Linked DNA regions of Homo sapiens: region 1 is linked to region 2. The links come from fine-mapping of genetic effects on gene expression. A gene starts in region 2. The other region holds a variant in brackets. All regions are shown on one strand. Distances are from middle to middle.

The links.
Region 1: its variant is fine-mapped to the expression of KIFC3 in whole blood (TOPMed, PIP above 0.99). The same link has a PIP of 0.9 or more in blood mononuclear cells.

The regions. Positions count from the first base shown.
Region 1 is chr16:57,747,883-57,763,174 of GRCh38, reverse strand. KATNB1 (katanin regulatory subunit B1) reads right to left here. Exons shown (of 20, transcript NM_005886.3): 5 at 12,248-12,348; 6 at 11,873-11,914; 7 at 11,451-11,534; 8 at 11,120-11,235; 9 at 10,574-10,645; 10 at 10,247-10,397; 11 at 9,908-10,098; 12 at 9,656-9,786; 13 at 9,180-9,230; 14 at 8,178-8,245; 15 at 7,937-8,056; 16 at 7,681-7,830; 17 at 7,258-7,334; 18 at 7,109-7,183; 2 more. The coding sequence ends at 6,229. KIFC3 (kinesin family member C3) reads left to right here. Exons shown (of 20, transcript NM_001130100.2): 13 at 905-1,035; 14 at 1,639-1,762; 15 at 2,004-2,133; 16 at 2,220-2,449; 17 at 2,759-2,893; 18 at 3,339-3,447; 19 at 4,022-4,050; 20 at 4,266-4,958. The coding sequence ends at 4,026. Among named protein-coding and RNA genes, the nearest start is that of MIR6772, 17 kb to the left of the region's middle. RefSeq lists a silencer at 5,716-5,865 and enhancers at 5,664-5,958, 5,547-6,186. The variant G/C (reference allele first, on the strand shown) is at 7,615.
Region 2 is chr16:57,797,694-57,811,496 of GRCh38, reverse strand. KIFC3 (kinesin family member C3) reads left to right here and starts at 9,006. Exons shown (of 20, transcript NM_001130100.2): 1 at 9,006-9,127; 2 at 13,215-13,425. The coding sequence starts at 13,254. LOC388282 (a long non-coding RNA gene) reads right to left here and starts at 978. Exons shown (of 4, transcript NR_169553.1): 1 at 713-978. RefSeq lists enhancers at 764-823, 884-943, 1,134-1,263, 8,033-8,709, 9,387-10,063.

The DNA.
Region 1 (15,292 bases), 49 kb after region 2:
TCCCTGCCCCCACAGAGGGCCCTCCCCACAGGGCCAACCTGGCTGTGGGGAGACAGCAGGGTCTACACAAATCAGCAAGTGTCCTGTCAGGCCAGGGAGAAAAATAAAGCCAGGAATGCGGAACTGACTAGGGGGAGGGACAGGGCATTTGGGGGTGCTGGGCGAAGGAGCAGCCTCCCTGAGGGGGCATCTTGGGAGCAGCCTCCCTGAGGGAGATGACGGAGCCGGCCAAGGGGCGGTCAGAGGAGTACCCGGGGCAGAGGGAGCTGCAGGGCTGAGGCCAAGAGGCCAGAGCATGCCAGGGGCACCTGAGGCCCAGCCAGGAGGCCCCTGTGGCCGGAATAGAGAGTGAGTGAGAGGTGCTATCAGAAGAGGGGTGAGGGCCAGGCTCCCAGGGCCTCGAGGTCCCGGGTGGGGACTCCAGGTTTCCTTCTAGAAAGGCCGGCCCACCCGTCCTTCCCCAGGACACTGGCCCGCTCCTCCTTGTGCCTCCTCTCTACCACCCACAGAGCCCAGGTCTCAGCCTCCCTGAGACTGAGCGCCTTTCTGGGCAGTGGCGGGGTCATTCATTTCCAGTGCCCCTCCCAGGTGGCCCCACAGGGCCAGGCATGCATCTGGCCCTCAGCTGCCCTGTGTGGGGTCTGGGCCAGGCCCCTCATCCCAGTGCTGCACTATAAGTCTCAGGGTAGTCCTGGCAGGGCGATGCCATTTTAATGGTGGGGAAATAGAGGTGCAGTTGCCCGCAGCTGGTGGAGGGCATTTTGGGGGACAGTGGCAGGTAGGTAAGAGCTTTGGGCAAGGAGGCTTGCTTGTGAGGGGTAGTCAAGGGGCTTTGGGGACAGACACCACACGAGCGTCTTTGGGGACAGGCCTGGCTTACTGGGGCCTTTCCTTCTGTCCCCAGGGGACCGCTGAGAACCCAGGTATCAACCAGCGGGCCCTGCAGCTGCTCTTCTCCGAGGTGCAGGAGAAGGCGTCTGACTGGGAGTACACCATCACCGTCAGCGCTGCGGAGATCTACAATGAGGTCCTCAGGTGGGAGCCCCAGGGTGTGCGGAGCAGGCCTCAGGGGCAGCTTTGGGGTCCTCCGGGGTGGTGCTGGAACGAGGTCCTCAGGTGGGACCCCCAGTATGTGGGGAGCAGGCCTCAGGGGCAGCTTTGGGATCCTCAGGGGTGGTGCTGGAGCAATGGGGGATAGGAAGTGGGGTCTTCCTGAAGGGAGTGTAGGGACCAGATGAGGCCGTCAAGGTGAAGGGAGTGTAGGGACCAGATGAGGCCGTCAAGGGACCTGGCTGCAAGTCCTGACTCAGCCCAGTGGGTTGGATGGTTCTGGGGGGAGGAGGGGCTCTCTCTGAGACCCAGGCAATCCTTGCCCCTACCTGTGGGCTACACCAGGTGGCCATGGGTGAGAGTGGGCAGCTAGGGGCCCTGCCAACAGGGGCTCATTGTATTGTGGAGTGAGATCTCCACGTCTTCAGCTGAATGCGGTGGAGGAGCTGGAGGAGGAGAGATGCACTCAGCTGATGGCTGGAGAAGGCTTCCTGGGTTGGGGGAACATTCCTGGCTGGGGGGCTGGGTGCAGTGCAAACAGCAGCTGGAAATGGGAGGAGGGGGTGACTGTCTCACCTGCCCCTCCAGGGACCTGCTAGGGAAAGAGCCTCAGGAAAAACTGGAGATCCGGCTGTGCCCAGACGGCAGTGGGCAGCTGTATGTACCAGGGCTGACTGAGTTCCAAGTGCAGAGCGTGGACGACATCAACAAGGTGTGGAGGCGGGAGCCCCTGACCACAGCCACACTGCTCTAGAGGACACAACTGGGTTTGAATGTAGGCTCTGCTGTGTCCTAAGCACGCACCCTTGGGCAAGTCCGCACGCCTCTCTGAGCCTCAGTTTCCTCATCTAAACTGCGGAGGGTGGTGCCACTCCTCATGGGTGCTTGGGGCCAGGTGACTCTGAGGACCCCATTCTCAACGCTGTGCCTCTGCCCTCCTCCCAATCCCCCAGGTGTTTGAGTTTGGCCACACTAATCGCACGACCGAGTTCACCAACCTGAACGAGCACAGCTCCCGCTCGCACGCGCTGCTCATCGTGACGGTGCGAGGCGTGGACTGCAGCACAGGCCTCCGCACCACGGGTGAGAGTGGCAGGCAGCCTGGCCTGAGGATCCCCACAACCCCAAGGGGCAGGGCAGGCCTGATCTGGTGGGTGCCTTCCCTGCAGGGAAGCTGAACCTGGTGGACTTGGCTGGCTCGGAGCGCGTGGGCAAGTCGGGGGCCGAGGGCAGCCGCCTGCGGGAGGCGCAGCACATCAACAAGTCGCTGTCGGCTCTGGGGGACGTCATTGCTGCCCTGCGCTCCCGCCAGGGCCACGTGCCCTTCCGCAACTCCAAGCTCACCTACCTGCTGCAGGATTCGCTTAGTGGTGACAGCAAGACCCTCATGGTGGTACAGGTGAGGACCTTGGGTTAGGGCGGGCCAGTCCCTAGCATGTAGGGGCTACGCTAGCAGTGAGACCCAGTCACCCCAGGCTGTGCAAATGGACCTCCCCGCCCCTAGACCTGGCCACACACACCCTGTGTAACTCCCAGTCCCTCCTCTCCACCTTTGACCACAGCACCTCTGCCATGTTGCCTGCCCTCCCACCCCATCCCTCAGGCCTCTCCAGGAAGCCTTCTGACGGCCCCAGCTGTGAGCTCCCTCTCGTGACCCTGTTGCCCCTCCAGCTGGCCCGGGTGGGCAGTGAGCTCTCGTGTCCCCTAGGTGTCCCCCGTGGAGAAGAACACTAGCGAGACGCTCTATTCCCTCAAGTTTGCTGAGAGGGTGCGCTCTGTGGAGCTGGGGCCTGGGCTACGCAGGGCAGAGCTTGGGTCCTGGTCAAGCCAGGAGCATCTAGAGGTACGGGGACTGTCACAGGCCTGGCTCAGGTGGCCCTGGGTCAGAGACTTTGGGTCATGGCAGGAGCAGGGAGCTGGGCGGGGACGTCCTGAAGCAGTGGGGGCAGGGAAGCTGCCGGAGTTGGGTGGAGCTACGGCTGGAACCCACAGCCAGCAGCCTCTTCAGTACAGGTATTTCTTCTTGGCCTCGGAGGTTCCTGTGGGGTGACGAGCTGGCCGTGGGGGTGGCACATAGTAGATGCTCAGTGGTAACTAGTTGACTTCTTTACATGAATTATCTCATTTAATTCTTGCCATAACTGAGGCTGGGGCACAAACATCATGCCCATTTTGCAGATGAGGAAACTGGGTGTTAGGAGGCAGGGCAGGGGAGTAGAGAGAAGCACAGCAGGGTGGGGAGCCAGGGCAGCCGTGGCCCCCGCCCATCCGCCCTTCCCTGCTCACAGTGGGAGCCGGCTTGTCAGACGCCACAGCCCTCGGCACGGGCCCACTCAGCCCCCAGCTCTGGGACCAGTAGCCGCCCTGGATCCATCCGGAGGAAGCTGCAGCCCTCGGGTGAGCCTGGAGTGGCAGTGTGGGTGGGGAGTCTCCCCAGGGTAATAGTCACCAGGCTGCCCTTACCTGGATGGGCTTTCTCTTTTCTTTCCTTTTTAAAAAGTTCTTACACCTTCTCCAGAACCTGTTTTACAACCTCCCCTGCCCCCAGGCAGTAGTCAGGGCAGACAGTGCTGTGTCCGTTCTGCAGGTGGGAAATGGAAGGTCTGTGGGAAGGGGGCAGTGTAAGGAGACCCCAGCCTCTCAGCCGGGGGTGCTGACTCTACCCTGGGACCCTGCTCTCTGAGCATGGGCTGGCTGAGCCTGTGCAGTAAGCCCCCTCCAGAGCAGCCCCTGCAGCCCCCTCCCTGTGCCTCAGCTGCCCCGGGGGTAGAAAGGGCCGGGCTTGCCTACCTCCTAGGTGAGGAGTGAGCCCCGCCACAGGACCGGGACCCAGGGCTCCAGCCCCTGTTTAGCCCAGATCATGGGAGGGCCTGGCCCATCCTTGAGTCCAAAGGGGTAGCAGCAGCAGGGTCTTGTGGGGTACTGGCCCAAGGCAAGCCCACCAGTGAGACGCCTGTCACTTTGATTTCAGCCTGACGGCTGGGGCTGCAGAGTCTCTAGGTGAGTGTGGGGCCTGTGGCCCAGGGCTGCCCGCCTGCCTGCCCGCAGTGGGTTGCAGGGCTGCGCTGGGACGTTCTGCTGTTCAGAGCTGGGTCTAGCCCCTGCTGTCGCTTGTCTATGTGCTTTTGCTGGGTTCCCTCCTGCTCTCGGTGGCAACTGCTGTGGGCTGCCGGTGGGCAAGTGGACAAGAGGCTGATGATCTCATGCCCCTGCAGGGAAGTCGCGGCCACTGCCTGTGTGACGGATGTGACCCCGCTGGGCCTGAAGCTGGGCCCTCACTGGCCTGTCCCTGCTGCAGCGCCAGGACCCCCGGAGGTAGAGGCGAGAGTGGAGGCTCTTCTTCTGCCCCGTCTCCCCTCAAAGATGAGAAACATGTTCAGAAGGAAACGGTGTCTCTCGGCTGTGGCTCTGAGTGCAAATTGCATGGGCGGAAAGGCGGGGGTGGCTGCTCTTCCTGGCAGGCCTGGGCCATCAGCGAACTGGGCCCCGTGAGGAGGGCGGGAGTGTGGAGGAGGGTGGGCCTCTCACCCAGGCTTTCTCGGCCCCTCTCCTCAGCTTGCAGAGCTGGCCAGCCCCCTCCTTAGGGGGTGGGCGAGGAGCCTCTGGGCAGACCCAAGAACCATGGGGACTGGGGTGGGTTGGTGGCACCAATGGCAGCCCTCCCCGCCCCTCTCCTTCAAGGAGGGTTCCCGCAGCTGGGGGGTGTGCGGAGGCGCATGGCCTCCCGCCACGGGGCCGTGCTGTGTTTATGGCTGGCAGAGGCAGCCAGCGGGTGGGGGATTCTGCTGCTCGCTCACCTGCCTGGCTCGCTGGTCTCTCGAATTTTCTTCCCTCTGAAATCCTATTTAAGAACTTTTGGAAGCTTAGCCATTTTTACTTATTAAAATAAAAGAAGCCTTTTTACACAAGTATGGTCTGAAAAAGTTGGTCTGTGAGCCCCTCTTGGTCTGATTAGGGGGACGGGGCACTGGCAGGTCTTGTGGACTCCCCCGCTGGCTGGTCACCCCACAGCCCTCTGGGATCTGTCCTCTAGGTCAGTTAGGGACATGCGTCCTTAACAAACAACTGGGGGGAGCCTGCGCTGTCCCACCCTGGGTCACTTTCTCTGTTGTTTGTGGTCACAGTCGCCTCATGCGGTACCTACCATGTGCCCACGATAACTGACCTCCCAACAGGGGCATTCCTCCATGTTACTGATGGGAAGGAAACTAAGGCTGGAGAGAGCTTCAAAGGCTATCAAAGCCTTGCCCAAACCATGCTGGGCTTCCAGGTTACTGCTGGGCACCACCCACTGCCCACTCTTTGCCCTGGCCTTTTCCCTCTTCAGTGAACTGGCCAGAGGTCCACGCCACCTTCCTCCAGTGCCGAGGACCCTGACCACCCCGGGGCGGGGCTGTACCTGGTCCCTGCCTTGGGAGCAGGAGGGGGCCCACCTGTCGCAGTGCCCACGGAGCAGGGAGCCCTTTCCCGCCAGCCAGTGCTGGGGACTCCAGCAGGGAGTGACAGCTGATCGGAGCCCTGCTCAGAGGAAGGGGCAGGTGCCCTTCTAGTCCTGCCCCTGGAGGCATCCTGGGGGTGTCCATAAGACAGCTTGAGTGTAGCTGAGGTGGGGAGGAACGGGCTGGTGGGGGCCACCCCTAACCTCAACACCCAGTGGTGGAAGGGTGGTTGCCGCCTCCCCTTCCTTCCCAGTCTGCACTGGCTGAACTGGTGCTGTCCCAGAGGCCTGATTCTCTGCTGCCCCCTGCTGGCCACATGGCCCAGAGCCCCACCCCCGGGCTTGGAGGGGGTGTGGCCTCATCTCAAACCATGGGGCAGGCACTCCTGGGCCCGGGGAGCCCTGTGGCCAGCAGAAAACATTCCCCACAAGGAAACCTGGGAATAGTTACAAATTTAATAAAATTTGCCTTATAAATTACAGCAGCAGCCCCAGGGCTCAGTTCGCTGCCCCAAGAAGCAACAGTTGGGCAAAGCTGGGCAGCTATTGCTGGAGAGAGTTGTCTCAAGAGTTCAGGGCTGTAGAGGTGGCCAGGGACCAGCATCACCTCCTCCAGGACGGCCACAGGACAGCAGCAGGGGCCAGGCAGAGGCTCATGGGCCAGTGGGTGCACAAGGAACAGGAGTGGGGGCTGAGGCCAGGCCCTGTGGGCTGCCGAGCGCCCCTGCCCACTGCTTTCCTCAGTCCAGACTGGCCATGAGCAGGTGCAGCTCGCGGAAGGTACTGCCATGGCGGCCGCTCAGGCCTGACTTGCTCTTGACCAGGCCGCTGATGCTCTTAAGCTGCTTGTAGCAGAGCCGGCACTTATGCAGCCTGTAGAGAGGGCAGTGCCTGAGGGGCTAGCTGGCACCACCACCACCCACACCCAACCCCAGGGCCTTTGCTGTCCTAACTGCTCCAGCCCTTCCTCCCAAGGGAAGGCGGAGGCCCAGAGGGGAACCACCCAGGCCCTGCCAGGGATTGTGGGCACAGCCAGGCCATGGAGGAACCCAGCTCTGGCTAAGCCCACCCACACCCTGAGCCATGGCCCCAGACCAACGCCTCCTCTGTACTCTGTCCCAGCAGGACTGTCAGTAAGAGGGGCCCAGGCCTCCAGGCCTTTGTCCCCTCACCTGTTGTGGCACCCCTGCCCCCAACACATGCGCTGCCCTCACCTCTCCTCCCTGCTGATATCCACACCCACAGAGGGTGGGGCCGCCAGCATGTCTGTGATGAGGGGCAGAAACCGCTGCAGGATCAGCTTCAGGGAGGTGCAGCCCGTCTGGACGTAGCTTTAGGGGGAGATGGATGAAGTCACAGATGGACCAAGGGCCACAGACAGAAAGAGAAACAGCAAGGAACAAAGGAGGAGAGGGGCAGAAACAGACACAGACACACCCACACATACACCCACACACGCCTGTTTCCACTCCCACCTCCGGACTGTTGAGGGGCAGCAATGCTTCACAGCCAGCTCACAGGAACACCCAGGCTCTTGGGGGTCCTTCCCATGGTTCTGGAGGAGGCTTCTTACCTCTCCCCTCCCCCTGCTTCAGGCAGGCATGGCTTCCCCACACGCACCTCTCATACTTGCTCTGCAGAAGCTTCTCAATCTGTGGCAGGACGGTGGTGCACAGGTCCAGCTTCCACAGGGAGCTAGGAGAGGCCAGGACATGCTGCCATCAGCCCAGCCCTGCCCCTCCGCCCACTCCCCCTCTGCAGCCACTTACGCTTTCTGGTTGACGATGTTCAGGAGGTCCACCACCACCGACAGGTCGTTGATGGCCACAGCGGAGTCCACCGACGTCTGTGCAAACAGAGCACCGTCAGGGGTGGGGCAGTGGGGGACAGTGTGGCCCTGTGAGGGTGAGGGTGGGGGTACGAACGTGAATGTGGGTGTGCTGATGGGGCTGTGGGTATTCAGCACTGCACCTAACGCAATGAGTGTAAGGCCAGGCATGTAAACAGATGCTCACTAAACGGCAGTCTGTGATGATGATGATGATGGCGGAAACAGATGGTGTGACGTCAGGGATGGCCTATCCCACACTGTCCCCCATGGGTGGCCTCTTCTTGTTCTGCCCCAA[G/C]CCCGGGCAGGCAGGTGGCAGGGGCAGGGGGGCGAGATGAGGCCCTGTGCAAGGGTGGGCACTTGCCTTGATGTCGCCCATGGTCCACACAGCCCGCACAGTGTCCAGGTTCTTGTGGCGGCTGGTGAGCACCACACACATGGTGTCGTGGCCTTTGCGGATCTGTGACATGGCATCCTCGTCCACCAGCTCGGCCTGCTGGGGGATCTTCACGGCCTGCGTGGGATGGACACCCAGATGCTGGCATGGGAGGAGCCAGCAGCAAAGCTCTGCCCTCCACCCACAGACCTCCACCCATGCCTCGAGCTGGGCTCCTACTCACGGGCAGGAAGTCGGAGGCCTTCAGCCCGATGGGCTCGTTCCGGGTGGCAGGGATGATGGCAGGCTCAGCCTTGGGTGCAGGTGTGGAAGCAACCACTGGGGGCCGGGGCAGGACCTCCAGCTGAAAGTGTGAAACTCAGCGGTTGCCGGCCTGGGGCCTCCCTCTCTGCCTCCCGAGGCACCCCCAACCCTGGGTCAGGACCTTCTCTAGGCCCCACACCATGCTCCCTCCATGGACATACATTTGGCACCGGGAACTGCACATCCATGGCAGGGCTGGGCTTTGCTGCCTCCTTTGCTGTGGCTGCGTCTGGAGGCAAAAGGAAAAGATGACTGGGTCCGGCCAGAAGGGCCTGGCAAGAAGGGCAGGGCTCAGGGCGGGACTCTGGGCAGCATCTGCAATGGGGGGATGGAGCAGGAGCATGGGGGAGGCTGCAGGCCAGTGGCGTGGGGGTTCCAGAGGACCTGGGGCAGGCCTGGACCTGCCTCCTCCCTCTCCCCCAACTCAACCTTAGGTCTGCCTGTGGGTGGGACCCAGGGGGCTCTAGGATGTGGCCATCCTGTCCCTTCACTGGCATGTATGTGGAGGGGGCTGGGATGACTGGCAAGATGGAAGTGGAGGCTCCTAGGAAAGCCAGGACTGACGGCAAGGACGGTCCCTGAGGGGAGGGCAGGGGTACTCTACAGGACAGGTGGCCCCATGCCTGCCCGTTCTCCAACCACAGTGCAGATCATTTTTCTCCCTTCTTAATCCAAACCCCCAGCTGAGGCCTTGTGGGCCTGACCTCTTGCTGGGACTCGCCCCAGCTCACCTCCTCTCAGCTCCCTTCCTGCCAGAAGCACTTCTCTCTCTCTCTTCTCACTGGCCCCCAGGCCTTGACAGGCATTGGGCCTCCTGAGAGCCTCCCGATCATCCCGTCTACAGCAGACCCCATCTAAGGTGGGCCCCCAGTGACTCCTCTCCATCCTCCACAGCCCGAGTGCCCCTGGCAGGCCCCCCAGTGTGGTGGTGTCCATGTTTGTCCCCCACACACCAGGGCACAGGCTCCTACGGGGGCACTATCGGTCTTGCAGGGACCTGGCACATAACAGGCAGAGGGCAGAGACCCAGCGGGAGAGGGTGTGGGTCGTGTCCTGAGAGGGGAGGGTCCTGGGAAGGGGCTTGTTGGGAGGGTTCACAGGAAGAGAAGATGAGGGACGGGGGGGCATCAGAGACCTTGGGAAACCAGGCTCACCCAACTCACCGTCCTCTGGGGGTGCAGGGAAGGGCTCACTTCTCCGGGGTGGCGTCCGACCTGCAGAGGAAAGAGGCCCCTGGCTGTGAGCGCTCCTGGCCAGGCCACCTGGGACCCAGGGCCCTGTCCAGAGTGCGGGGGACGGAGGGTAGCTCCCAGGCATGCGGCTGCAGACTGTGGACCCTGCTCCTGGTCCCAGGAACCCTCAGTCCTGCCCCTCCCAGCCCACTTGTCCCTGGCAGGGCAGGGACTGGGACACTGAGCAGCTGCTGGGCCGCTGCTGGGGAGTGCCCAGGCCCCCCTCTCAGTTCCATCAGAGCACAGCCTGGCAAGGCCCAGGGAACGTGAGGACAGGATACGGAGCCCAGGTGTGGGTTAGGAGGAAGTTAAAGGGATGCGGAGCCACAGCAGGCTACCCTGGAAGGACCCCCAGCCTCCCTTTCACCGATGGGGACGCTGGGCTGGGGGCGGGAGCCCGGCCTCACTGATGCTGTTCTTGGGCTGGAAGATCTCGTTGTAGTCCTCGGCGTTCTGGATCTCCGCGCGGGACTCGCGCTCGTCCCGGTCATCCTCGCTGCTGGGGCTGCGGCGCTCGCTCTCTGAGTTCTGCTTCACCCTGGGAGCGTGAGGCCAAGCCCAACGGAAGCAGGTGCCCTGTGAGGCCCAGGGCTGGAACTCCGAGGCTTCCCCTGTGACAGTCCCTCTCCTGGGCCCCCGAAGGCCCCCCAGGCCCTCACCTCTGAGGCTTGCTGCAGGTTGTGCTGGGCCGCTCATAGATGCGCCGGAGGGGGGCGCTGGGGTTGGGCAGTGGCTGTGCCAGGGGCCGGTGGTCCTGCACAGGGTCCCGGGCCACCGTGCCAGTCCTGGTGACACGCGTCAGATCCACCACGTAGGAGGAGACGTTGCTCTGGGAGAAGGCCACACCTATCTGCAGAAAGCGGAGAGGTGGGGCTGGGACTGCAAGCCGAGGGGGCAAAATCCCAGCCCCAGTGTGGGGGTAGGAGGAGGGGCCTGGGCTGGAGGGAGGCGGGTGGCCCTGTGGGAGTGGGGGGCGGTGGGTGCCATGGCTCTCTCACCAACTGGTCATTGCAGATGGCCAGGTCGGCCACCTTGCCCCAGTTGACGAGGACCACATCAAAGCACCGCTCAGGTTCCCAGCCGTAGACACGCAGTGAGTCCTGGCAGCCGCTGTACAGGCAGCAGCCGTCTGGGTTGAAGAGGACGCTCCTGGGCCAGGCGAGAGATGGCCGTGGGTCCTGTGGCACCCAGCCTGGTCCCCACCCCGAGGAATCCAGAGGGCCCAGGGCAGGGAGGGCGCAGCAGCGGAGATGGGAAAGGCCCACCCACAGCCACGCCCCACTGCCGGGAGGAGCGCTGGGCCGCCCACCCCACAGCCTGCGTACCTGACGGGCCCAGGCTCCCCTTCGATGCAGCTCACCACCTGGAACTTCTCCAGGTCCCAGAAGCGGATTGTCCTGCAAAGGCAGCCAAGCTGTGCTGCGAAGCCTATCCCTCATCCTGGCCTCCACATGTCCCTGGGAAGCCAGCTTTTCTCTAGAAACCTCTCCCCCAGGGCAGGGCCACCAGGAGCAACATCTGGGGCAGAGCTGGCCCTGACTTTGCAAGGGGGAGGCTCGGCCCGATGGCCCTGGCCCCAGGGTTGGCCCCAACAGCCACGAGCCTCCCTGCCCTATGGGGTCCCACTAGATGCCTTGGGTCCCAACCTGCCCATGAAGCCACAGACCTGGGACACTGGGGCCAGGGAACCAGAGCCAGGGGAGATGGACCAGGGTCCAGTCCTGGCTCGGCTGAAATCCAATTCAGTCCACACAGGATCATCAGACGTATGACACCCCAGACAGCGACAGACCGGCAGTAGAGACACGCACAGAGGACAAGGCGGTGAAGGACAGCAGTCACAAGCAACTCGCCTCGCTCCTCCTCCTCACCTGTCAGAGCTGCCGGAGGCCAGGAGGTACTCGTTGGGGTGAAACTCGACCACGTTGACAGGCCCCGTGTGACCAGGGAACTCAGACATCATCTTGCCGGCAGTGAGATCCCAGAGCTGGAGGCAGGGCAGGGAGGAGGTCAGGGTGACCAGGCATCTTGGCTGCCCACCCTCCCTCTAATCCAGGCCAAGCTCTTTATCCACAAGCTACCTTCCACTCGGGATAGGCTTGGGACATGTGAGCCCGATCAGGAGGGAGGTGAGGACTCAGCCTGCTGTGATCAGCAGACCCCAGCCCCCAGCCCCTGGGCCCAGGTCAGGCCGGGAGCTACCTTCACGGTGTGGTCATCTGCGGCCGACGCCAACCACTTCCCATCGGGGCTGAACCGGAGACACCGCACGGCCTGGCTGTGCCCCTGAGGGAGGACACGGCATGAGCTCACCCTGGGATCCTGGGCCCAACAGACCTCTCCCTGCCTCCTCACTCCTATGGGACCCCTTCCATCTAACAACACTGGTTACCCGCCTGGTTCTGCTTGGAGCAGTTTGATGAACGTGGCTCTAGGGGATTCATGCAGAGCCAGGGGATCCAGGTGGGCCGCCCATGGCGCTCCTGCTCAGCTCCAGGTCTATGTTTTATGTTATCACCCATGTGGGACAGCCGTCCCCTCCACCCCCTGCTGGGGTCTGGGCACCACACCACACTCAATGCCCGCAAGGTGCTCATGGAGTCACCGACAGAGCGCATCCTTACCCTGTATCGGAAGACACAGCCTTTCCTCCTGATGTCCCAGAGCTGTGGGGGAGAGAGAAGCAGAGGGGCAGAGTCAGGAGAGGTCAGAGCCACGACTGGAGGAAGGTGTGCAGTCGTGAGCAGACGGTGGGGCCCAGCCTTCTCTAGGTCGTTACTCCCCACGGAGACAAGGACAGAAACTGCTCACTAAAGCTGGCATTCTGAGCAGAAGCATCTGGCAGATAGATGCCTGCCACCCGCTTTCCCTAGGATGGTGTGGATGTGGCTGCAGAAAGGGAAGAGGTCCCCTCAGCAGGCATCCAGCACTGAGGGCCGGGCCGGGCTGGTCCTGCCACAGGCCCAGCAGGAGACACGGGGCACGGACCGGCCTCTCACCTTGATGTTTGTGTCCTGGGAACCAGAGGCTACAAACTCGCCGTACGGGTGGAAATCCAGGCTGCAGATGTTGGCTTTGTGTCCCATGAGTGTGCGAAGAACTAACAAGAAGGAAAGCAGAGACAGTGGCTAAGAGGCAAATGAGAAGGCTGGCAGAGGAAGGGCTGCTGTGGGCATTTGTGTGTGCGCTTTTGGATTAGCTGCACAGAAAAATAGAACAATAACACACATTTTTAAAACAGTAGGAAACAATCAAGGGTCCCACCACCCTAACAACGAATTTTCTTTTCTTCCTTTTTTTTGAAAAGGAGTCTTGCTCTGTCGCCCAGGCTGGAATGCAATGGCGTGATCTCGGCTCACTGCAACCTCTGCCTCCCGGGTTCAAGCAATTCTCCTGCCTCAGCCTCCCAGGTAGCTGGGATTACAAGCATGTGCCACCACACCCGGCTAATTTTTTTATATTTTTGGTAGAGATAGGTTTTCACCACGTTGGCTGGGCTGGCCTCCTGACCTCAAGTGATCCACCCGCCTTGGCCTCCCAAAGCGCTGGTATTACAGGTGTGAGCCACTGCGTCCTGCCAACAACTAATTTTCCCACATTTCTCTTGAGAGGTGACAGCCCTATGTTACCTCAAGTCTGCAGAAATTGTACCACACTCTCCCCACAGACTGTGCTCCAGCGGAAGCAGAACCAGGGAACCACCACACTCAGTTCAGGCCCCATGGGTGTGGAGCTTATGGTTTGCAGGGCACTGAACCCCACCCAAGACAGTGCAAGGAGAGAGACAGACCAGGAGAGGTTCAAGCTGGGAGAGAAGCTGCTTGGTTGGAAAGAGAAATCCAGGAAGGCTTTATGGAGGAGGTGGTATTTGAGTAGATGTCAGTGGGTGGAGGATGAGGGATGCTGTTAGGTAGATGGAGGTGATGGGCAAAGGCCCTAAGAAGGGCAAGTGGAGGGCATGGCTGGGGTGGCCCTGGTGCACACACCAGTCTTCTTGGGTGACCTCTGTCCAAGGGATCTTGAGGGTGGCTGTGAGGACACACTGAGGAGCAGTGAGAACTGAGAGGACACAGGGAGGACACGCGAGGACCAAAGAACTCCTGGGGTGGGGCCTGATCGCCTCCCACTGCCCTAGGAACCACATCTCCTATCCTTTCCTTGAAGGTTTTGCAGGCATCTCCATGGCCAGGAGCGGCCCAGCCTGGAGGCAAACCTTGTGTGTTTCAGGGTGTCCTCCAGTACCACTCAGATTTGTCTCATGTTTCCTGCTTTTGGAAAGATTCATAATTCACTATCTGAATGAAACTGACCATCCCAAGTGCCAGGGTCAGGAAATGTGGGAGTCCAGCCATTCTTAGTTTTGAGCCAAGGTGCAATAGGTCACCTTGTGAGGTAGTGAGCTCTCTGTCAGAGGAGGTATTCAAGATTCCATATATAACACTTTACTGCAGAGTCAAGATCCAAGCACTGGGTGAATTAAATGAACTCTACTGTATGATCTTCTCTACCCCCAAAGTCAGGATGTGGGCTCTGGCATCAGACAATACTGGGATCAGCCTTGGCTCCGCTCCTCACTGGTGGTGTGACCCTGGCCAATCACTTACTGTCTTTGGGCCTCATGTTGGGTCACAGAATGGAGTAAACATACATAAAGTGCTTAGCACGGGCTCTGCACATGGTAAGTGCTCAATAAATGCCAGTCTTAATTAGTCCCATTCACATTTCTTCCTGCACAAGGCCTGCCTTCTGCTCTTGGCTGTCCCGCAAGCTGGGCCTTCTCTCCTCCTCCCCAGGCCTCAGTGCCCCTCTGCAGCTGGCCCTGTCTGGCGCTGGAGCTGGGTCTGGATACTTTCACATCCCTCTGGAGTCTGTCGAATGCATATCCAATTCACCTGCACCAGAATCTCTGCAGCTGTCACTCCTTGCTCCGTGTAGCTATCAGGTGCTGCTGGGGGCTGGGCATTGCCTCCTGGCCAAGGAGGCCACGCTGGCTCTTGCTCCAGTCCACACCCGCTCCCAGCCCACTCAGCTTGGATCCCACAGCAAGGCTTCCAAAATCCTGCCCTGCCCAGAGAGGATGTGGCGGAGTCCCACCCTGTGTGGGCTGGCTGCATGAAGCACCGGCCGCCCTCCTGTGAGATCCCGTGGGATCCCCTGCGCTGAGCTACCCTTGCCCTCTGGCTGCGCTGTGGAAAGCAGGCAGGACCACATTCTTCCGGCTTGACTCCTGCCCTTGCTCTTCTGTCCCACGAAGGCCTCTGATGCCTACATTCAATCATGGGATCTAGGAACTGCAGAGTGGAGGGGCTTCCGGGGTCTGTCTGCCCCACACAGGAACCCCCAACGCCTCCCAGCTGAGCACCTCCTCAGCCTACATCTGAACCCTCCAGTGATGGGTGGCCTTTCAAGGCAACCGATATGAGGCAGCTCTCTCTCTCTCCTTTTTTTTTTTTTTTTTAAAAAAATAGAGATGGGGTCTCCTTTTGTTGCCCAGGTTAGTCTTAAACTCATGGCCTCAAGTGATCTTCCTGCCTTGGCCTCCCAAAGTGCTGAGATTACAGGTGTGAGCCACCATGCCCGCAGAGCAGCTCTCTTTGGAACCTTTCCACACCTGGGGCCTCAATTTGCCTGTCTGTCACTGTCACCTGCACTCTGGCGAGGGGGTGTGGAGGGGGGCCGGAGGTCTTAGCTCTACCTGCTGTGCTGATGGCAAGTTTCTCTTCCATCCAATGGCAGAACAGACAACACTGGGATGGGAGTCCTGACACCGGGATTCAAGTCCCAGGCTCTGCTACCTGCAGCTACTGGGGTTTTCCTAAGCTCGGTGCTCTCCCTGGGCCTCTGTTTGCCCATCTGTCAACCTGGCTGTCCATCGGAATCACCTGGAAGCTTATTAAAATCCAGATCCTGGGCCCACCCCAGTACTGAATCGGGTTCTCTGAGGATGGAGTCTGGGCCGTGAGTTCGTAATGAGTTCCTTGTGGAGCAGCCAGCCCTGGCCGTCCAGGGCCCAGGAATCCAGCAATCTTCAGTTTTCATTTCTC
Region 2 (13,803 bases):
CCCTGCTCTGCCTCCCAAACTGCTGAGATTATAGGCGTGAGCCATCGCGCTTGGCCTGACCTCTGTGTAGGTCTCTCTCTCTCCTGTCCTCCCTCCTTCCTTCTTCCTTTCTCTCTTAAACGGCTTTACTGAGATATAATTATCATACCATAACATTCCCTGTTTAAAGTGTACAATCCAATAGTTTTTAGTATATTTACAGAGTTGTACACTGTCACCATAAACTAACTTTAGGACATTTTATCACGCCCCAAAGAAGCCCCATTCATAGTCACTCATCATTCTCCCTCCCAGGCCCTGGCAACCACTCAACTACTTTCTTTCAGTGGAGTTCCTTGGAGAAGCAACTGTGAACAGTGAAGCCAACCCCAGGTACTGAGGTGGGATGCTCCTGCCCTTGGATCAGGCTTTCAGCAAGCAGAGTCCCAGAATGAGGACCATCCCTTCCAGCTGGCCCACTCACTTCCTTGTGGCTGTAGCCCTGAGAAGGTCACCAGTCCACCCTCCTCCTTTACCCAGGGAGGGGCATGAGACCCAGAACAGGGAGGAAGTCTGACCAAGGTCACATCGTGGGTTGGGGACACAGCTCCTGCTGGCGGTACCCACCATCTCTGGCACTCCAAGCTATCTTCCCACAGCAGCCCCTACACATCCATAGGCCTTCCACTGGCCTCAGTCTCTCCATCTGTACAATGGGAATAATAACACCTACCACACATGTTGTTGCGGGGATTGAATGAAAGCAAAGGCAATCCTGTGTGTAAAGAGTTTTTCCCTTTGCCTGGCATGAAGCTGTCCCTCAGCCCATTGCTGAAGTTGAATTAGATTAAATTCCCGTCCTGGCATTCAGGGCCCTGCACATTCTGGTTGTCTGGGGTGGATGGAAGTTTGTCCCTCCCCTCCCTTGGAAGGTGGCAGATGGAAGCCACTGGAACCGCAGGATCCTTGCTGCTTCCTCTCGGTCACCTGGAAGCTGGTGGTGTCAGCGGGGCGGGCGGGAGGTTGACACTGGTGGCGATGACTCAGCACTGAGAGCTGTGGGAGTCTAGTTAATCAGCAGCGTCAAAACTTCCTGTTGCTGTTTGCAAACAAGGGCCACCCCCAGAGGAGGAGGACCAGAGCTAGGGGAGAGGCTGCGCACCACAGAACCTCAGCAAAGCGAAGCTACAGTTTAAAGGCAGCAGCAGCAGTGGTGCTAAGAGTTCAGCAGGTGGTCAGGGGCTGTGGCTATGGCTTTCCAGGAGCACGTGGCTTCCCTTATGGCCCCTGTCCCCATCTCCCCACCCAGGAGGAATTTTTTTTTCCCCCAGTAGTAGCTGATTGACTTACTGCAAGGAGCCCCAGTGAAGTGCCAGGGTGTGAGAGCAGGAATCATGGTGGTGGCACCAGATGAGACTCATCCGTCTAGGATGGGCCAGAGTGTTGGACCGCGGGGTACTGAGGCGTTCCAGGACTGACCTCAGAAGATCTCTGAGGGCTTAACAGCAGGCAGGGATTGGGAGCACTGAGTCAGTGCTCTCAGCCCCACCTGGCCTGGCCCAGCAGACAGAAACACTCCCGGCCTGAGCACCTGGCAGAAGAACCAGATACGCCCCTCTGGTGACAGCCATCGCTCAGATATCTTTATATATGCCTCATGCCTCCCAGGAGAACCAGCCAGGGCGAGAATTCCAGATCCAAGAGAAAAACTGTAAATTAGCGTGAAAAGTAGTTCTCGTCAAAAAATGCTGCCAACGACAGTGTAAATTTGGTACAGGCCTTCTGAGGGGCAATCTGGCAACATGTTTAGAAAGTGAAAAAAAAATGCTCAGACTCTTTATTCAGAAAGATTTTTTATGAAATTGACAACCTCTCTTCTCCCTTCCCTCCCCACACCAGGGAATGAACGGGCTGTGTGGGTGGCAATGGTGACAGCAATGCTGTTTATAAAAGTGACAAAAATGGGAGCTACTCAAATATCAGACCCTACGGAATGGCCAGCTCAGTCAGGGCACAGGCTCTCAGTGGAATATTATGCAGCCATTTAAAATAGTTTTTTGCTGGGTGCAGTGGCTCACAGCTGTAGTTCCAGTACACGGGAGGCTGAGGTGGGAGGACTGCTTCAACTCAGGAGTTTAAGGCTGCAGTGAGCTCTGATCATGCCACCTCACTCCAGCCTGGGTGAGAGAGCGAGACCCCAACTCTAAATAAGTGAATAAATGAAATACTTTTCAGCCATTTTTATTGAGTGCTAGGTGCGCCCCAGACACTGGAACCTCCATTCTGAATGTGACCTTGGCTTTATCCTATGATGTCTGCACTTCAGAAAAATGTAGGCATTAGCAGGAAAAAGTGACATGGAAAATGCTTATTATAATAATTAAAAAAAATTTAGAGATGGGAGTCTTGCTATGTTGGCCAGGCTGACCAACTCCTGGGCTTAAGCGATCCTCCCACCTCTGCCTTCCAAGAAGCTGGGACTACAGGCATGAGCCACCACACCCAGCACTTACATGATTCAAAGTAAGAAAAGGCAGAGTAAAAAATTCTATCCGGTCTTTGCCTCCCACTATAACTGCAGCTTGTGTTTGCAGAAATGCCAATTGTGTGCCAGATGCTGGGCTGAGGGTGCTATGTGCTTGCTCCAATTTACATCTCACCATAACTCAATGGGTTAGACACTAGCCCTACTCTCATTTTCACAGGAGGAAACTGAGGCACAGCAGAAGTGACTGAGCCAGTGAATGAGCTCAAACCCAGGTCTGCCTGGCCTCAGAACCACCTTTAGCCATCTCTCTATACTGTCTCTCCTTAACACAGAAATGACATCAGCTCAAGGTCAGATACTGGAAAGAAAAATCTGGGCCAATGACAATAAGTGAAGGGTGGTGGGATTTGGTGTTTTAGTTTTTGTGTTTTTCCTCTCTCTCTTGGTTTCTATTAGATTTGTGCAGAAAAAAAAAAATTTTAAGTTCAAAAACAAAAACTGCCACCTAGAATTTGCAGCAGGTGGGGAGAAGTGAATGAGGAAGTGGGGAAAAATGCGAAGGATGTTAATAACGCATGTGCTGGTTTAGAACCCGGAGCTATAACAATTTAGGAGCAAGGAGAGAAGCGGCAGAACACTTAGCAAGGAGGAGCCCGGCGGCTTCTGGAGGATGGTGGGAGGATCCTCGGGCTGAGAGGCGGGCCGGGGGCGGGGCTTATTTGGCCCGTGCTACTCTCAGGGCGGTTATTGCTAAATCTTTTTATTACCTGGTGCTTACGTCCATTATCTCCTCAATGTTTGCATTCCTCTCATTTTTTTAAGACTACAGGAAATGATAAAAGGGGAAAAAAAACCTCACAAAGCCTCCGTTTGCTTTTAGCCTTGGAGTGCTAGGAGGGAGGGAATCTCCGCCAAATTCCTCCTTGAGTCATAAGGCTTTAGGTTCCCCTAAACTGAGAGTTAGGGGAGAACTGTCGAGTTCAGTCTTTTTGGCCAATGCAGAAAGGCAGCCACCATTTGGATTTTAAAGCAAGGTGGTTTCCTTTTTATTTTCTAGTCCTCTTAGAAGGTTTTTTTTTTTTTTTTTTTTTTTTTTTTTTAAGACAGGATCTTGCTCTGTTGCCCAGGCTGGAGTACAGTGACACGATCATAGCTTACTGCAGCCTCAAACTCCTGGGCCCACGCCATCCTCCCGCCTCAGCCTCCTGAGTAGCTGGGACCACAGGCCTGTGCCACCGCGCCTGGCTTGTTGTTTTGTAGAGACAGGGTCTCAATATGTTGTTCAGGCTGGTCTAGAACTCCTGGCCTCAAGCGATCCTCCTGTCTCATGAGCCACTGTGCCTGGCCGGCAAGGTGATTTTCTTGGGGGAAAGATTGCCTTGGTTCTCTGAAAATGGGAGAACTGTTTTCCCCTGTTAATACAGCTTCTAGAAAGGAAGGGACACAGGGAGCAGGAAGGTGAGAGGGAGAGAAAAGAGTGAGAAAAGTACCATTAGTTTAAATATCACTTGAACACCTAATGCTTGCTGAGCTGGGTCTAGAGCAGACAAGGATGACAGGAATTTACAGTCCAGTCAAGGGACATCCAAGACCACCACCTCTCCATGCCCACTGAGGAGCCTGGCTTCCTGAGAGCTTGCAGCTGTGAGCCTTGTGCCAGACCCCCTGAGGTGCTCAGGGTGAGTCATGTGCCCAAGACCTGCAGTTGGTGACATGCAAAGCTGGAAACCAAATTCATGCTTATGGGGCTGGGTGCAGTGCCAGGCTCTTCACCTCCAAGAGCTCTTCCACGGGGTTTTTTTTTTTCTTTTTTTAGACAAAGTCTTGCTCTGTTGCCCAGGCTGGAGTGCAGTGGCATGATCTTTGCTCACTGCAACCTCCACCTCCTGGGTTCAAGCAATTCTCCTGCCTCAGCCTCCTAAGTAGCTGGGATTACAGGCGCCCACCAGCACATCGGGTAATTTTTGTATTTTTAATAGAGATGGGGTTTAGCCATGTTGGCCAGGCTGGTCTCGAACTGCTGACCTCAGGTGATTGCCCGCCTCAGCCTCCCAAAGTGCTGGGATTACAGGCGTGAGCCACCACGTCCAGCCTCCTCCGTAGTTCTTTCTGCGGTGCTCATGATGAATGATTTCAGAGGGATTGGAAGATTGGAAGATGTGGATTCAAAAAAGCAGCTAATTGGGTCAGGATTACTTAATATGCGGCTCACTCCAGAATGAGTTTCTCCAACTTCAATAAATGTTCTGTTACCCAGAAGCATGAGAGGACACACTTTTCACAGCTGCAGGGCACTCCTTCCTGACCACATGGAAATAATTGCTAAGGAGCCTTCTCTTACTTCCTTTTGGTAGAAATTATCATTACTTTACATGGGAAGAAAGTCTGTTTGGGTACATTTCACGCACCTGTTCTTCCCTTCTGAATTCTATGGGATCTATGGATTTATTCAATGAACATGTCTGTGATACCAGGCCCTGAGCTGGGGTCAGCTGAGGATTTCCCTGTGATCAAGTAACGAAAGGGTCCTGTCCTGAAGGAGCAGATGGTATACACAGGAACGCCATCATGATCCAGGGTCGGGGATGCTGCAGGGGGTGAGTTGAGCCCGCCTGCTGGTGCCTGGGAGGGTCAAAGAAGGTGACCTCTAAACTTGAAGGAGGGACAAGCAGGTATGGAATTGGCCAGGTAAGGGTTAGTGGAGGCAGATGAGAATGGGGTGAAGGAGAGGGGCTTTCCAGGCAGGGAGGACAACATTTGCAAAGGCTCGGAGAAGACTTGATCTGAGGTTAAATCATTTAAAATGGGAAAATCATGTAAATCTTATCTGTGCTTTACTCTGGGTTGCTATGAGAATCAGATTAAACACAATCTGACTTTTCATTCCCCTTCTTTCCTTCCCTTTGGGGAGCAGAACTCTCAGGCTCTTGGCCACTTCTCTGACGAATGCCTGAGCAGTAAAGGGTTTCAGGCCCTCTGAACACAAAGATGGGTCAGGTGTGGTGGCTCATGCTTGTAATCCCAGCACTTTGGGAGGTTGAGGCGGGCAGATCACCTCAGGTCAGGAGTTCGCAAGCAGCCTGGCCAACGTGGCAAAACCCCGTCTCTACTAAAAATACAAAAATTAGGAGTTTGAAAGCAGCCTGGCCAACATGGCAAAACACCGTCTCTACTAAAAATACAAAAATTAGCTGGGCGTGGTGGCGCATGCCTGTAATCCCAGCCACTTGGGAGGCTGAGGCAGGAGAATTGCTTGAACCCAGGAGGCAGAGATTTCAGTGAGCCGAGATTGCGCCACTGCACTCCAGCCTGGGCAACAGAGTGAGACTCTGTCTCAAAAAAAAAAAAAAAAAAAAGTCTATGGGCATACCACCGTGAACACACCTGATCTTGTCTGAACACAAAGATGGCGCTGCTAGTCCCTGCCTGGGGATGGGGTGGATGTGGGCGTGGAATTGCAGTGTTCTGGACACTGTCTTCTGTCTGGCCCTCCCTGAGACAGCTGTGCCTCTGCCAGAGTTCGGCAGGAAGGGTCAAGGCTAAGGCTGAACCCAAGAGTCCTCCCTCAAGGGTTTAGGACTTCAGTGTTGGAATGGCCAGGTTTCAGCAAAACTTGCACCTTTCCCGGGGCCAGGAGAGTTGGCAGCCTCCTATGCAAATCATCAGCGAAGTTTCTGGGTTAGAAATGACCTTGGAGTTGGTACGTAGTTCCTGATGACATTGTACATTCTTAAATTCCAACAACTGGGATGGGCATGGTATGGTGGCTCATGCAAATAATCCCAGCACTTTGGGAGGCTGAAGCAGGATGATCGCTTGAGGCTAAGATTCTGAGACCAACCAGGGCGACAGAGCTAGACCCCGACTCCACACAATATTCTTTTTAAAAAACTGAGTCATGCTGGGCACGGTGGCTCATGCCTGCAATCCCAACATTTTGGGAGGCCGAGGCAGGGGGATCACTTGAGGTCAGGAGTTCGAAACCAGCCTGTCCAACATGGTGAAACCCTGTCTCTACCAAAAATATAAAAAATTAGCTGGGTGTGGTGGTGTGCGCCTGTAATCCCACTGCACTCCAGCTTGGGTGACAGAGCGAGCCCCCGTCTCAAAAAAAAAAAAAAAAATTGAGTCAGGCACAGTGATTCACATCTTCACATCTGTAATCCCAGGACTTTGGAAAGCCAAGGTAGAAGGATCCCTTGAGCCCAGGAGTTTGAGACCAGCCTGGGCAACATAGTGAGACACCCCCATCTCTACTTAAAAAAAAAAAAAATTAGCTAGGCACACTGGTGTGTGCCTGTAGTCCCAGCTACTCAGGAGGCTCAGGTGGGAGGATCACTTGATCCCAGGAGTTCGGGGCTATAGTGAGCTATGATTGCATCACTGCACTCCAGCCTGGGCAACAGATCAAGATCTTGTCTCAAAAATGCAACAACCATGAAACAAGTAGTTTTTACGTTTCAAATCGGAGTTTTGCTAGAATTCCAAAAATACAACCTCCTTACACTTCAATTTCCTTTTTCCTTCGCTGGTGCTTTGATCTTAATAAGTTGTTATACCCATATGCATCTGATAGTACTGTGTGAGTACCTATTGGAGTCATAGCTCTATCACACACTGCATTTGTGAACAAACTTTCTGAGGCTCAGTTTCCTTTCCTGAAACACGGGTGTCCTGAAACAGTACTGGTGTTCATAGGGTGTTCAGGGTTAAATGGGATTTTGTTTATAAAGAGCTTAGTGCTGTGCCTGACACAGTGTTAGCTTCAATAATGGCATCTATTATGTACACAGGAAAAAAAAAGACTTCTAAAGTGTTGGCAGCATTTATCTCCAGTGTGTGGGATATGGTTACAATGAACATCTATTACTTTTGTAATCAAAGCAAAAGAACAATAAATGTTATTATTAATTTAAAAATCTGGCTTTGGCTTTGGTGGGAAGGACCTACAGTTAATGTCAATGTACTCAATCCCTGAGTAAGAAAAAGTCTCCAGTTTTGAACCAGGACTTTAAAGACATTCTGTCCTCCCCATCCCCCGCCCCATCAACTCATAGGGACTATAATCAAGGGAGATAGATACTAAATCAGAATTCTAGAGACATTTTGCCTTCATCCACCCTTGCGGTCCCCTGGATCACTGCTGTTTGGAGGGCAGGCAGAGGAATTCAGAGATCATAACTCCCCAAATAAGGCTTTCTCTCCCATTGGAAGGGTTCTCCAGTGTGGTGTTCAGCTGGAAATCTAACTCTCTAGGGAATGATTCCAGGAGCGTTACATTCACCCTCTATCAGGCCTTCACTGAGGAATCTCAGTTGTCAAATAAAGCATGCACTAGGCTGCTTCCAGCTGGGGGACTGTGACTGTCCTGCTCTGGCGTCCAGAACAATCTGAGGCCCAGGCCCTTGGCTCCGTCGCTGGTCGAGATTCTTGACTGGCAGCCCAGCGCCTGGGCGGCAGCAGGAGATAGAACCCACCTGGAGTTGCCCGACCCCCTCCAGTCCTCTCCTTGATCTTCTTGGGCCATCCCCTGACAAGCAGGAAGGGACAGAGTACCCGCCCTCCTGGGATTATCTGCAGAACCGTCAGCCTGCATGGGCTGGCTTCAGAGTGACTTGCTTTCTCCTCTTCCGCACCCGGGGGTGTGGAGAGTGAGGGAGAATATTGCTGCTGGCTCTGGAATAAAATGCTGCCTCTGTTTGGGAGACAAAGAACAGAGTGGCTCCTCCAGGTCAGCTGTCTCTCCCGGCTGGCAGGCCCCTGGCCTCCCCCAGGCCTCTTCTGAGGCTCTAGGTGCCCCAGTAGCAGGGCCTTCTGCAGCAAGGCCGGGAACTGCTGCACCATTGGTGTGTTTTACCTTAAGGGACTCCAGGCAGCTTCCTTGCTGGGAAGATATTCATTTGCTGGGGTGGGGCTGGGGGTGCAGAGGTAGGAAGTGCTGTGGCTAGAAGGCGGCCTGGCCAGCGAGTAGGTGGTGGAGCGAGTGAGAGCGTGTGCGCTGTAAACAGTGTGAGTGCATGTGCGCCAGCGCGTGCAAGGACACGGTAAGGGATGTACATGTATTGTCTCGTGAGTAAGAGCTTGTGTGTGTGTTGGGATGGGAAGACACGTACTGGTATGAGAGCCCGCGTGAGAAGTGTATGTGTGAGTACTCGCGTGGAAGTTTTGCACTCGGGTTTGAGGCTGTGCAAAAGTACGCATGGCTCACCAGGTGTGGGGCTGTGTGGGCTGCCTCGTGTGTGCCAGCCCGTGTGCAGGCCTGTTTTGTGAGAGCCTTCAGGGAACGCATGAGCACGTGTGCCAGTGCGAGTGCGGGACGCGGGGAGGCGGGAGAGACCGAGTGGGAGGCCCCGCGAAGGAGTGGGAGTGGGAGTGGGAGTGCCGGCGGGAGACCTGCGGGGGCGCGCCCGGGCTGACGCGTGCGCGCCAGTGCGCGTGAGTGCGGGCGCGCGCCGCCGCCCCCCGCCGGGGTCGGAGCCGGTTGCCATGGGAACGCGCCGCGGCCCGAGTTAATCATTTCCTGTGGAAAGTGTGCGGGAGGGGCGCGAGCGGGCTGGCCGAGGAGGAGGCGGCGGCGTGGAGCTGCCTCCTGCCGGCGGGCCGGGCCGGGCCGAGCCCCGGGCGCTGCGGCGACGCCTGGATCCTGCCTCCGCCAGGCCGGTGAGTGGGGGGCCCGGGCGGGCTGGGTGCGAGCGGGGCGCTGGGCTCTGCCCGGCCCGCCGTTTGGGGCGCCGCGTCCGGGCCGGCCCTGCCCTCGGGACCCCTCTGCCCGGACCCGCTATGGGCGCGGGGAGGGAAAGGCCCGGGAGACCCAGCCCTGCGAGGTCCCCTCCAGCGCCGTTCAGCCCGAGTCGAGGACCTTGCTGGGAGCTGGGCACAGGGGCGGCGTGTCCCACGGGATCCGAGCAGCCTCGGGACCCCGTTTGGATTTTATTGAACGAGAAGAGCGCAGACCCTACCCGGGATGGGCTTGTCAATCGGCGCCGCCCTCTCCCCTTCCTGGCGTCTTCCCCACCCCCAGGGCTCCCTGGAAGGCTGCCTTTGGGTCCCTCCCACCACGTCCCTTGGGGAGTTCGCTTTTTCCCTGGCAGGGCCTGGGGCGGGGTGCGCCCGCCCAGAGGTTAGGAAGAAGGGCCTTGGCCGGTGCCCTCCGGGCAGTGAGGAATCGGGCCATTGACAGCCGCAGCAGTTGTGAGGGTCTCAGCAGGGAGGGCGATCCCAGGACCACCCCTTTAAGCCCAGCATTGCTAGTTAGAGCAGAACTCTGGCTGGTGCAGTGAAGGGCCTGGTCCTGGGAGATATTAAAGAGGAAGCTGTGTTTAATTAAATTCTGGAGTACCATTTACTGCCACCCAGCCCCCACCTCCATACCCCAACACTGTCTCAAGATTGCGGGTTGTGGCCACCCCTGGTCTTTCACCTTCCCCGGCTTTTCCTCTGCCTGAACAGGGTGAGCACCCATTCTTTCCCAGACGTGTATTCCCCATGCCCTTGTTAGAGTAGCCGTCTCCTTGACCAGGGAGAGTCATTTGCTAGGAATGCAGTCTCAGAATGGGGCCCTGCATTTGCAGTGAGTGGACTTTAGGGGCACAGGGTGGTGAGTTCTGCTGTTCACAGGGGCACCAGGGAGCAGAGGGTTTGAAATCTAGGTTGCCCTGGAAAGCCCAGGATAGATGATGGTGTGCAGGGAGGTGGCATTCCCTGTACAACTTCCTTGACCTTCTGCCTGCTCTCCCAGGGCGACCAAGCCCTGCTTGCTGCAGTCTCTGAGCAGCTGTCCAGCCTGTCCCCCCAGTCTTTGCAATGTCCCTGATCTAGGGCAGGGGGAGTATTGCAGCTCTGCTGTCCTGGTCTAAACCCAGAGAGGCAGAGACCCTCTTCCCCAGCCAGGCCCTCTGCATTCACCCACCACTGGAGCAAAGTAACTGAAAAATAAAATTTTGGAGCTCTTTGTATATGCCAGTATTGTTCTGAACACTTGGCCTTGTCTAATCTTTAGAGCAACCCTATAAGGTGGTGTTCTCCCCATTTTATAGATGGAGATAATGAAGTACGGAGAGGCAAAGTAATTCTCCCAAGGTCAGACATCTAGTAAACAGGGGAGCCAGGTTCTGAACCAGTCCCACTGCCCTCCCCCACGAATCCTAGGTTGGTAGAAGTCCCCGGACACCAGGTTTCATCTCAGATGCCCATGTAAATGAGAGAGAGTCCTGCTTTCTTGGCCCAGAACCCTGGGCTTAAGATTCCTTGATACTTTTGACCTTCACACCCCTGAGGCTGCTAAATTCAGCTGCTTTTTCCTCTTCGGGATCTAGCACACGCCCTTCCTCTTTCTTCCCGATATCTTCCTGGCTGCCTCCTCCACTTCCCTTCCTGATAACCGCAGAAACGCTATCTCCTCCTGTCCCTGCCCCTCAGACTGAGCTGAGCTGATCTCCCTGAAAGTCTTCTCTGTCCACTGTGGAGTCAGCCTCCAATGCCCTGCACTGTCTCACCTTCCCAGCAGCCGAGACTGCAGATGGACCTGCCTTGCTCCTTCCCTTGCCCATTGGACAGCTGGTCTGCAGGGTTGGTTGTGTGCCCAGCTCTGTGCCAGGCAGCCTGGAGAAGAGGACATTTGGCTGCTCCCCTTGGTTTCTTCCACGCCACACTGGTCCATCTCAGTTTCCTCAGTGGAGCTGGCCCACGTATTTAGATCAGCCTCTGCCCTGTCCTTTGGCCCACATTCCCATCCCCTTCCCAGTAAGACTGAACCTAGGAGCCTCCTAGTTGTTCTAAGTCAAGGAAGGAAGAGACCATGGCTTCCTCGCCAGGTGCCTGGCATTCTTCCAGGGTTGGGCTCTGCAAACATCAGACACCAGATCTTCAGGCCCCTAACCCCTGGACCCTTTACTTTATTATTTATTTATTTATTTATTTTTGCCTCTCAATGCTTTAGTCACTCCTGTCTCTCTGTCTCCCCAATATGCTCAACTCTCCCCCTATTCTAGACACCACATCCTCTCCTTCCCATCCTAGCCAAACACCCCCAAGGAGAAGGAAGTGGCTGCTTCCTCCCCCAGCTCCCGCCCCACTCTTTGAGCCCTCCGAAGTTTGCCATCTGCCCTTCTCCCTCCACAGGCTCAGGCTTTCTGCCTGTCTGGGCTTTCAGTCCTCCACGTCTCTTTGGCATGATGCACTGGGCACTGACCAACCTCTCCTTCCCACTTACACTTCAGTCACTTCTGAAAACTCTATACTTGCCTGGAGCTCCTGTCCCTCTCTCAGCTTCCTTCTGCAGCTTTCCACCCCGCAGTGAGCCCTGTTATCACATGGCTGTCTCCTCTTGCTCAAGCTTTGATGATTGCCTCCTCACCTGTGGCGTTGGTGGCCCTGTTTAGCTCTGAGTCTGTGTCCAGCCCTGACCTCTCTTCCAGGCTTCAGTTCAAGCTTTTGTGTGTGTTCATTTCAGAACGTTCACCCCACAAGCCATCCCAGAGTTCTTAGTGTGGGTGCAGCTGCAGACTGGGTGCAGTGGGGCTGCAAACATGAATGTGTGTGGGCCCATAGTGGGTCAGGGGAGGTGGACACCCTTCAAATAGCTATCTTCACTTCCTGGCAGGAAGTGGCCACTGCAGTGACGGATGGGGAGAGTAGTCGACAGCCCAGGAAGCTCCACTAGGAAGTCCTTCAGTTACCCCCACCTCAATCTTAAAACCCCATGTTGCCTCTCCAAGCTGACTTCGCTTCTTCTGTAAATGACATTACTGTCTGAGTCTGGGACTGTAGCATGATCACCTTAAATGTCCTCAAGGTTGCTTTGCACACAGTAGGTGCTCAATAAAGACTTCTGCAGGGAATACCTGAGCTCTGTTCATTTGTTCAGTTCATGAGGGACCTATCCCTGACTGAAGCTTTCTATCCCTGACCAATGCTCTCTGCCCCCCTCCATTCCCCACACCACCTGGTGCCTGGCTCGCACCTGCCGCCTCCAGTAGCCTGCTCAGACTGTGAGGGTTTTTTTGAAGTGTTTATCTCCCTTCTGACTGGGAGTTTTCAGGCCTCATCTCTTCTGATCCAAAAGGACCCCTGGCAGATGCCTGGCACCCAGTAGGCATTATTAAATGAAGACTGAATGAATCTTTGTATCTCAACACCCATACGGTGCCTGCCACATGCTAGGCACAGAGCGCAGGCTAGTCGAATACATGAATGAGAACTTACTGTATATAGACTTCACTTGTCATTGGCCACAGTCAGGGCCCTTTTGAGTCCCTCCTCAGTGAAATGTTAATATTCAGAGCATTCACTGCTCTGCTGACAGGCCTTAGGCAGAGCAGCCTGAAGCCTAAGGGTTAAGCATGTGGTTAAGTGCAATTAGAAAATTAGATGTCTTGGAGGAAAAGGATTAGACTTACGGAGATGCTGCTGACTCGCGGTGCCTCCTCTGTGTGGGGCTAGGACCTGGCTTGTCCTCAGGCTCCAGGCTCAGCTGGGAAGGGCTCAGGTGTGGGGTCTCAGGCACAGCTGATATGCAACTTTCGCACTTCGGAGCCTCCGTATTCGGAAACAAATACCCCCAAAAGGCAGCAGGCCCCATTTCATCCTGCGAGCCCTAGGGTCTTTGGGGGACAGTGCAGTTGGAGCTGCTGCGCTGGGTAACCAGCGACCGGTGGGGCGTAGACCCTTCCAGATGGCTGGCTCTGCCCGAGGTGCAGTTGTGCTGGTCCACGGTCTTCAAGCTTATCTCCCCTTGTTCTCTCCGCAGGCTGCCTGGTGCCCCGAGGAGGCTGCTGAGCCCCAGGCCATGGTCCCCTCTCGCAGGACGTGGAACCTGGGAGCCACGCCCTCGCTGCGGGGCCTGTGGAGAGTGGGCCGGGCCCCGGAGCCCGAGCCGGGGATGGCTCGCCCCGCCCCAGCCCCAGCCAGCCCGGCCGCCCGCCCTTTCCCACACACCGGCCCGGGGAGGTTGAGAACTGGTGAGTCCGCATTTTTAAAATGCCTCTTTATTTCCCTTCCTTCCTCCAGATACCAGAGATGAGACTGAGGTTTCTCACCGGTTCCTAAGCCCAGTCAGAGCTGTCAGGTAATTACAGGGTAACCGACAGCCCAGAGCCAGGCGGGCGTGGAGCCGGAGCGTCAGTCTCGCCGGGCGCTCCTTCCCTGCGCCCCTGTCTGGAAAAGAGGAGACCTGGAAGCCGGGTTAAACTTTAACACGGGTCGGGCACAGAGCAGGGGGAATCAGCTGCATTCCCTCTGGCCAAGCTGGTCAGAGCTCTGCGGGCTGCCGTCCTTGGCCAAGAGCGTGTGGGCTAGCTCCGGTCTCTGCCCAGGCTGGTAAACAAGGTAGGTGAAGT